Regions from separate parts of the Homo sapiens genome. Here region 2 is linked to region 1. The links come from fine-mapping of genetic effects on gene expression. A gene starts in region 1. The other region holds a variant in brackets. All regions are shown on one strand. Distances are from middle to middle. Region 1 holds the start of MIGA1 (mitoguardin 1). Region 2 overlaps ST6GALNAC5 (ST6 N-acetylgalactosaminide alpha-2,6-sialyltransferase 5).

Evidence for each region.
Region 2: its variant is fine-mapped to the expression of MIGA1 in adrenal gland (GTEx, PIP 0.93).

The regions. Positions count from the first base shown.
Region 1 is chr1:77,776,789-77,782,323 of GRCh38, forward strand. It overlaps MIGA1 (mitoguardin 1), which reads left to right and starts at 2,861. Exons shown (of 16, transcript NM_001416120.1): 1 at 2,861-2,948. It also overlaps the pseudogene RNA5SP21. RefSeq lists an enhancer at 2,748-2,837.
Region 2 is chr1:76,951,159-76,956,158 of GRCh38, forward strand. All of the region lies in intron 2 of ST6GALNAC5 (ST6 N-acetylgalactosaminide alpha-2,6-sialyltransferase 5), which reads left to right. Among named protein-coding and RNA genes, the nearest start is that of ST6GALNAC5, 86 kb to the left of the region's middle. The variant G/A (reference allele first, on the strand shown) is at 2,820.

The DNA.
Region 1 (5,535 bases):
TTAATCTTTTACCACAAACCCTCGTAGCAGAGCACATCTTCCCATGATCTTTTTTTTTTTAACTCCTCTATAAATGAATATTGTACCTAGAGTGGATGCATTCCTCTTCTTCCTTTTGGGAACGCCCTACTCTGTCTATAGAGTAAGTGGACATTCACCACTTCACTGTCTTAAACTTGCTTTTGCTTTGGACTGTGGACTTGCCCTGAATTCTTTCTTGTGCGAAATCCAAGCACCCTCTCTTGGGATCTGGATTGGTACCCCTTTCTGGTAACAACATTATGAAGCCTCCACAGAAATCCCTGAAGTACGGGGTTCTAAGAGCTTCTGAGTTGGTGAACACATCCATATCCCAAAAAGGTCATACACCCTGATTCCATGGGGACAGAAGTTCCTGCACTTAGGATCCTTCCAGATCTTGTTTTATGTACCTCTTCATCCGGCTGTTCATCTGTATCCTTTGTAATATCTTCTGTTATAAATCAATAGACTGGTTTGGGATGGGAGGAGAAGATTGTGGGAATTCCTGATTTATAGCTGGTTGGTCAGAAGTACAAGTGACAACCTGGGATTTGCAATTGGTATCTGAAGTGGGGGCAGTCTTGTAGGACTGAGCCCTTAAGGGTTTGGTGCATAGTATTGAATTAAATTTAACTGTACAACACCCAGTTGGTAGACACTAAATTAAAGAGTGGAGTTTATAATAAGAAATAATTGGAGACTTGTTTGGTGGGGAAAAACCTCCACACATTTGGAGTCAGAAGTGTTGAAACTACAGAAAAATAGCTTTGTGTTTCTTTTCCTTTAACAATGCATCTAGTAAGTGGCCAAGAAAGGATTCAAACCCAGGCAGTCTGACTTCACAGTTTTGTTTTGATATTATGCAGATAGGATCCCCTAAATTCATTAATGGTTGCTGTAGCATGTATTGCAGTACTTGTACAGAAGAAACAACTGGTAGTACTCCATGAACTCCATTCTCTGGTTTAGTGAGCATTACACGATGGCTTGGTTATCTGGGGGAGGTACTGGCCTTCAGAATTAATCCAGGCTCCAATTTTTTTTTCCTTGTCTCCAATATCAGAAGACATTGAGTCCCCTGTCCTTCTGGTTTAAACCACTACTTGTTTGGTTTTCTTTTACTTGTAGCGAATATGTTAACTAATATATCCAATAATGGCTAAGATTGAGTGCAGTACTCTGCCAAACCAGAAGAAGGGAGGCTTACAGCAAATTACATTTGGTTTATAAACATAAATTAAATGTGATATTTCTATTTTATATATTTTATTATTATTTTGTAGAAATGAGGGTCTTGCTATTGCCCAGGCTAATCTCGAACTTCTTACCTCAAGGGATCCTCCCTCATCGGCCCCACAAAGTGTTGGGATTACAGATGTGAGCCACCTCACTTGGCCTAAATGTGACATATCTTATTCTCATGCTAAAGAATAAACTCTGTACCCACCGTGTAATACTATTTTTCTCATAATGTTTATTGTGGAATTAAGGAGATAATATGGTCTCAGGAAAGTTGTGTTGAGTGGTAGTCATCATCATTACTGCTATTCTCATTACGTTGAATGTTTGGAAGCTGTGGGAAATGGGAAAGAGGAGGAAATTGGGAAAATAAATGAAAATAGCCTTACAAATTTCAGGTTCTTCAAGTCTCAAGAGCTCCATTTACCCTATAAGTGCAAAATATTTTCACATAAAACCCAGTCTGTGGATCGTTAGTTATTATTAATCTAATAATATCATAAATTGGTACTACTATTCTATTTTCCATTTGGTTAAATGGGAATTTTGAAAACAGAATTATTTTGGCTTTTCACCACAAATATGCTCAGCAACTGGAATTCTTAAATCTGCAGTTTTTTTGTTTTGTTTTGTTTTGTTTTGTTTTTTGTTTTGAGACAGAGTCTCACTCTAGTCACCCAGGTTGGGGTGCAGTAGCACTATCTGGGCTCACACAACCTCCGCCTCCCGGGTTCAAGCGATTTTCCTGCCTCAGCCTCCCGAGTAGCTGGGATTACAGGCAGGTGCCTGGCTAATTTTTGTACTTTTAGTAGAGATGGGGTTTCGCCATGTTGGCCAGGCTGGTCTTGAACTCCTGACCTCAAGTGATCTGCCCGCCTTGGCCCGCCAAAGTGCTGGGATTACAGGCTTCAGCCACCGTGCCCCGCCTAAATCTGCAGTTCTGATGGAATGTTTTGACTGAAGACTGAACGTAGAAACAGTACCTTGGGTTTTGTTGTTGTTATTTTTTCCTAACCCGGCCCCCTATTAGTTTACTATGTATTAGAACCTGAGAGAGGTGACTACTCTGCCAATAAATTGCCACATTCAATATTCTTCGGTTGCCTAATTCAGTGGGAAACACAGAAAAAAAGGTAAAGAGGACATGAAATCAATAATAAATGCATCATCTATACCGGATTGGAATGCCTCTTAACACTCATTCATCTGAGGGCTGAGGGCCTGTGGTAGAAGTTCTTAATCTTGTTTTCAGGGTTTTGAAATTGTGTAACTTTTTTTTCTTTAATGTAATGAGCATGTGTATACACATTTTTTTTTTTCCAGGGGAAACCCTCCATAATTTTTACCAGATTGACAACCGTTCTAGATCCCCCGACAGGTTACGAACTACAATACTAGTTTTTTTTTTTTTTTTTTACCGGTTTGTAAAAGGATGCAATTCTTCGAATATAGTTTTTGCATCCACTTGACGAGGAAGGAGCCTCTACCCTAAACAAAAATGGCGGGAGCTGCTTCACACGTAGTCCCTCACGCAGAAAGCCTGGAAGGCCCCCTCCACTTTCTCTCCACCTTCGCACTCCTGACCCCGGAAGGACTCCGCCTTCTCCATGTCAGACTGCTGCTCAGCGCCAGGCATCAGCTGGGAAGCTGGCGTGGGCAGGCCAGCTGTACCTGGCCTGGAGCTCCAGGTACAGGGCCAGGGGCGGGGTGGGGTGGAGAGGCGGGCGGGAGGAAGCGGAGAGTTGAGCGGCCACGCAGTTGGGGCAGAGGCCTCGGGGCAGGGGTGGCGCGGACTCCATCGCTGGCGTTAGCTCTCGGAGTGCCAGGTGGAGCGGCGGAAAGCCAGAGGGTCTACGGCCGTGCCACCCTGAACACCCCCGACCTCGTCTCATCTCAGAAGCTAAGCAGGGTCGGGCCTGGTTAGTACTTGCATAGGAAAGCAGGAGGGTCCCCACGCCAGAGGGAGGCCTGCAAAGGAAGCGCGGAATTGGGATGGGCTCGCCACTGCTCTGAGCCAGAGGAAGGGTCTGGACGGCCGAGCTGGAGGGACCCCCTTTTCTGGTGTTCTTGGCAAAGAAAAAGGAAGACAGCAGAGGAGAGCTCCGCGAGGGGCTGCTGTGGGGTCGGGGGAGAGCGCGCTGGAGGTAGGGCAGCTGGTGAGGTCTCAGGTTCGGCTTGGATGCGGGTGGTTTTGAGCAGGGAGTGGCTTTTGGATGTGAAAGATTACTCTGCTTTGCAGGTGCTTTAAGAGAATAATTTAGCACGGGAGTATTGTGGTGTCAGGTCCTTCTGTAAAGTTGTTAAATTATCTATTTTCCAGAGGGAAGACTCAGCTTGTTTTTGCACAGGACTTTGAAACCTTTATTATTGTTGTTTTATTGTTGTTGTTATTGCAGCTAAACATGTTTGCTCTGTTCAAAGTGTCAGAGTTAGGTTATATAGATTTGTGCTTCACGTCAATTTTCTTTTTGATACTTCAGACTTTCCTTCCTGTTGGATTATAAAGTCAAAGTTGCAGGATAGAATTTTAAGATGTCTAAGAAACTGTTTATGACACTTATTTTTAATTCCCCAGTAGTTGGAATGTAGAGGAGCAAGTAATATCACACAGGACAATATTTTTGGTTATGTTTTATAGATTCCGTCTATAAATTTGAATAATCATGAAACCCCCTTCATGTTTATTTTTATTATGCTTCTGAAAGCAAATGAAATGACTAGTTTTTTGTTTTTTTTTCTTTAGTTTTTCAATGAATAATGATTAGGTTTGGAATCAACTTCCTCAGTAATATTAAATGAAAAAGAATGAGGTAGTTAGAATGCAAAAATAGAGGTTTGTCATAATATTTTTTCTTTTTTCTTTTTTTTTTTTTTTTGAGGCGGAGTCTGGCTCTGTCGCCCAGGCTGGAGTGCAATGGCGTGATCTCTGCTCACTGCAACCTCCGCCCCTAGGGTTCTAGAAGTTCTCCTACCTCAGCCTTCCGAGTAGCTGGGATTACAGGCGCCCGACATCACTCCTGGCTAATTTTTTTGTATTTGTAGTAGAGATGGGGTTTCGCTATATTGGCCAGGCTGGTCTTGAACTCTTGACCTCAACTGATCCACCCACCTCGGCCTCCCAAAATGCTGGGATTACAGGCGTGAGCCACCACGCCTGGCCGAGGTTTGTCATAATCTTTTAAGAATATCTCTGCAGCCAATTAAAGTGTTTGCTTTATTTTCTTTCTATTCTGCTTAAAAATTTGGAATGCTCCATTATAGGGAAAATTACTTTGGGTGAATTACTCAATACGTTTTTTAAATGCAGTAGCATAGATTGCTTAATGATCCAGAATCTAATTAGTAAAAATGTTTCTCAAAATAAAATGTGTTAATATTTAGGGAGGGGGAAGAATAAATGAGCTTCCCCCCACTTCCTTTTTACTGTAGTAATATTAAAAAAGTAATACATGTAGGCAGGTTTTTAAAAATCAAGTATTACAAACAGACTTATAAGGAAAAGCAGTCATTCTTTGCCCAGCTTTTCTATATCCCTTGTCTTATTCTCCAGAGGACCATTTTTCACTTTCTTAACTGTTCATGGTTTCCTCTGTACTTTTTAATCATATGTCTCTATCACAGGTTGTTGACTGAAATAAATGTATGTCAAGTAGAACTAACTATACTGAATCTAAAAGTTGTACTTAGAACACTGGTAGGGGGGATTAAGTTTATACTGCTGTATCCCTAGTAAGGATTAAGGGAAGCATCAGTAGTAGTAACCCACCCTAAGAGGTATTGCTGTGTTTGATTTTAAAGGAAACCACTACTTAATCAGTGGTTTTGACACTTGTCTGAAAACAGGTGGGTATTAACAGAAGGGGATAGTCTATTGGAGTATAGAAAAAGAGAACATAGAAATGTATGCAGAAATGAAGGGCCTAAAAAAGTGTAGCAAATAATTTTTTTTTTTTTTGGTGTAGGCAGGGTTTCACCATGTTTCCCAGGCTGGTCTCGAACTCCTGGGTTCATGGACTCAAGCAATCCACCCATCTCGGCCTCCCAAAGTCACTCCCAAAGTGCTCAGGCATGAGCCACTCACTGTGCCCAGCCGCAAATAAACTTTTATAGAGGGATTGCTGGTAATTTTTATATTCTGTTATGTAATATACAGCACTACCCAAATAAAAGAAATAATAAATTTGGTAGACATAAACATTGTGGTTATTAGAGAAGCCCATTCTCTTGTGCATTAGAGATAATGCTTAGGCGTTTTCTTGGCCTGAATGAAATATT
Region 2 (5,000 bases), 830 kb before region 1:
TCTGAACAAACCACGGATCAAATCAGTCTCCCTGAAAGATGGCAGCTTCAAAAGGTAAAAGCCAGATGCAACAGAGTTAACCTCCATCACCACTTTAAAGAGGAGCAGAGCTGTGATTGTCTCCACTGAAGAACAAAATGAAGATTGGGTTTAAGCCAGTGTTGTGCTGGTAAATATTTGAACACTGACTGTTTAAAAATGTGTGTGTGTCAAGGACAGAAAACCAAACACCGCACATTCTCACTCATAAGTGGGAGTTGAGCAATTAGAACACATGGACACAGGGAGGGAAACATCACACACTGGGGCCTGTTTTGGATCTGTAGTTATTGGGAGGGTCAGGGGAGGGATGGCATTAGGAGAAATACCTAATGTAGATGACAGGTTGTTGGGTGCAGCAAACCACCGTGGCACGTGTATACCTATGTAACAAACCTGCACATGTACCCCAGAACACAAAGTATAATAGATAATATTTTAATGAAATATTAAAATTAAACTGCCAAGAATGTATATTTAAAAAGGTGTGTGTTTAAGCTTATTATTAATTTTCCCAATAAAGAGCACATAATTTACAAATAACAATAAAATGTTCAGTATTCTTTGTTCTAAATTCCATGTACCCAATCGTTTCTTTAAGAATGTTTTTATTGATTTTTGCCAAATTATTGTATCTATAGCTAACCTATGGGTGCAACTGATGAATGAATATAGTCCCAAAATAATATGGTTAGTATTTTTGGTTACCTTAGTAGGTAAGAAGAAGGTGAAACCAAAAAGACCTGTGTTGGAACCTCATTTGCTCCTCCATAATATTAGTAACTTCCTTACTGAATCAAATAACAGTTTTCAAATAATAGACCACCACTATTTTTCCAGTTTTGTGCTGCTCATGATGTAATGTCTACAAACACAGCACACTTTGAAGTTTAATATGTAATATTTACATTTTCTCCATCCATTTCTAATAATCAACAGTATAGCAAATCAAGTCCTGATTGGTGGTGTTTGCTTATTTCTATGATATAATACTTCCTTACAGCTGGTTTCCAGCTCCCAATGAGATATCACTGAATGCAGAGCTGGAAAGAGAGGTACCGTAGCAGGCCTTATATAACATTTTCACTATTATGCACTGAATATGTGCGTGTATGTCCCCAAGTCTATATGTTGAAGCCCTGACCCCCAATGTGATGGTATTTGGAGAAGGCTCCTTTGGTAGGTAATTAGATTTATGTAATTAGGTTTAGATGAGGTCACAAGTGTGGGGTCCCCATGATGAGATTAGTGACCTTATAAAAAGAGACCGGAGTATCCTATAACACTGTAGTTAAATATGAACAGAATTAACAATAATACATAGATTTAAATAGCTAGAATGAAGATATTGAATGGTCTCAACCCAAAGAAATGATCAATGTTTGAGATGATGGGTATGCCAATTACCCTGATCTGATCACTGTCCATCATGTGTATTGCAACATCACTATGTACCCCATAAACATGTACAATTATTATGTGTCAATTTTTTAAAACTAAAAAGTTTAAAAAATTAAAAATAATTGTAGAAAATAAAAACACCATGGTCACAAAAAAATAAAAATTAAAAAAGAAACCAGAGTTTGCACTTGTGCACCCCCTCGCCTGCCCCATCACCATAAAGGAACACCCTCCCTGTGCTTCCTCTTTCTATTGTTACCACTTACTCCCCATCCTCTCACAACTACTAATCTGTTCTCCATCTCCATAGTTTTATTTCCAGAATGTTATAAATATAAAATTATACAGTACATTAACTTTTGAGATGACTTTTTTCACTAAGAATAATACCCTAGTTTCGTCTACATAGTTGCATGTATCATTTCTTTTATTTCTGAGTAGTATTCCATTGTGCAGATAAACCAGAATTTGTTTAACCATTCACCCATTGATAGACATGTGGGTTGTTTCCAGTTCTTTGCTGTTATGGATAGAGCTGCCATAGACATTTGTGTATTTTGTATATAGATTTTATGCGAATATAACTTTTCATTTTTCTGGGATAAGTGCCTAAAACTGATTGCTGGGACCTATGATTGGCGCAAGAAACTTCCAAACTATTTTCCAGAGTGCCTGTATTATTTTCCTTTCCCACCATCATGTATGAGAGATCAAGCTTCTCTGTATTCTCACCAGCATTTTGTGTTGTCACTGTTTTCCATTTTAGCAGTTCTAATTGCTATGTGCTGATATCTCATTGTGGTTTTAATTTGCATTCTCTAATGGATAACGACGTTGGACATCTTTTTATGTGTTTATTTGCCACCTGTATCACCTCTTTGGGGAAATGTTTCCTCATGTCTTTTACCCATTTTCTAATTGGAGTTTGTTTCTTTACTATACAGTTTTAAGAGTTCTTTATATATTCGAGATGTAAGAAATTTGTCAGATATATGGTTTGCAAGCTTTTTCTCCCAGTCTGTAACTTGTCTTTTCATTCTCTTAAAAGAGTCTTTTGCAGCATAAAAGTTTCAAATGTTGATAAATCATATATCAATTTTTGGTGTCATGTCTAAGAACTCTTTACTTAGATTTACATCCTGAATATTTTCACTTATTTTTAAATAAAAAGTTTTAGAATTTTATATTTTCATTTAAATCCATGATCCATTATGAATTAATTTTTCATGTGGTGTGAGGTTTTAAATCAAGGTTCATTTTTCTGCCCATTGGTGTCCAATTGTTCCCGTGTTGTTTGTTCAAAGTTATCCCTTCTCCAATGAAATTTTTGTTTTTAATATAATTCATTTCATTATAAGTTTTAAAAATAATGCTTGTGC[G/A]TAACAACTAGCTCACAAAAATTTAACAATCAGTTCTGGGAGCCAGCACAGGGTGGCTCCAGCACTTTATTGGTTTAAACTATATTGTATGTTATTGATTAGGAGGGAAAAAGTAGTCATATGGATGGTTAGAAATGATGAGTGTTTACCTAAATGCCCATCAGTGATAGACTGGACAAAAAAAATGTGGTACATATACACCATGGAATACTGTGCAGCCTTAAAAAGGAGCGAGATTATGTCCTTTGCAGGGACATGGATGGAGCTGGAAGCCATAATCCTTAGCAAACTAATGCAGGAACAGAAAACCAAACACTTCATGTCCTCACTTATAAGTGGGAGCTGAATTATAAGAACACATGGACACATGTGGGAGAACAACCCACACTGAGGCCTGTTGGAAAGTGGGAGGGGAGGGAGAGTATCAGGAAGAATAGCTAATTGATGCTGGACTTAATGCCAAGGTGCTGAAATGATCTTTGCAGCAAACCACCATGGCACACGTTTACCTGTGTAAAAAGCCTGCGCATCCTGCACATGTACCCCAAGCTTAAAATAGATGTTGAGAGGAAAAAAAGAAAGAGTGAGTGTTTGTAAATAAATACATATGTAAAACATTATAAGAACATAAGGGCCCAGAGGTAGCATTAGTATCATTTTGTAGAAAATTAAAACTCAGGTTTGAAACTCACATTTTACTAGCCTCAGAGGGAGGAAGCAGGAATGGGATGTAATTCATGCTATTACTTTGAAATTGCTTAATTAATAGATTATTTTCAAACTAATTGGGTGGCCAGGAAGCTTAGTAGAATAATCATGGCCTCTGTGGTCAAATGGAGCTGGGTCTGAACCTTGGCTCTGACATTTACCAGCTTTGAGGAAATGCCTTATTCACTATCAGTTTCCCTTAGTGTTAAAATGGAGAGAACTCCAAGAATCAAAAGCTATATTCATTAATTTAACAAATACTTGATGAGTTCTGGTCTATGGAGAAGGGATTGGGGATACAGCAATGAGCAAAACAGTCATGATTTTTGCCCTCAAAGAGTTTACAATCCAGTGAAGAGGTGGACAGTGAACAAATAAGCACATTAGTGAAATGGTATTACCATTGTGAAAAGCGGCATGAAGGAAAAAAAGCAGATGTAGTGGTTTAAACAGACAAACCCAAAACTTAGCACTTTTCCAAGCACACAGAGTTTGCTCAGTGGCAGCTATTCATATTACTGCAGATTAGGGTACGATTAGTGTGGTCCAGGCAGAGGTTTGGAGGCCTGTCTGGGGACCTGACCACTGTCATCTATGTTGCATACTGTAATGCTCATTTTGCACATCAATCTGAATTGGATGTGCTTCAAGGTCCTCCTCTTACTCTAAAAATCTGTGTTCCTTAGGTGTGTCAAACAGGGATTAGTTTAATTTCTTACAAAAGGTGAGGGTAAATTCAGCAATCAGTATGGTAGTAATTGACTCAGTTGCTATATGTGTTTACATTTTAATAATGTTTTTCTGTGATATTCCCCACTCATGCCTTTTTTAACATAGAGTAAATTATGAAAAAAGACTTAGGGAGCTAGAATCCTAGGACAATGAGATGACTCTGAAAGTGTTTACAAACTTTACTTCCAACTACTGGCACACATTGAGTTTTGTTTGGAAGTAGGTTATTATTAATCAATGTTTTTTTGTAATGAAGTCCATAAATCCACATTAAATACACATCCAGACTTCTTGAGGTCCTTTTGATTTTGCATATTTTCATCAGAATAATTCACTAAACTCAATCTGAGTCTTTTTCATTTTAAGTTTTTGCTGATTTTCTACTAAGTGTCCTCTGACTTATTGAGCAACCAGTGCAGCATTGGCTGCCTGGGCAGGGAAGGAAACAGCAGGGGTTATATAGGAATCTGAGTGATTCTGCTTCTTGGCTCTTGTTCTTATGGTTTAAAATAGAAGGAATAATCTTTTCACCACTGTCTCCACCACCTCCAGTTTTCAGTGGGAAGATGAGGAGTAAGAGGTACATGGTTAGTTATTTTCTGTTTCCCTTCTCTAATTTCTTTTATTATCAAATTGGTACTGCCTTATTGTAGGAAATTGGGAAAATAAAAACTAAAAAAGGGAAAATAAAACTTATCTGTAATGTTACTGTTAGGAGTCATCGTCTCCCATACTTTGAAA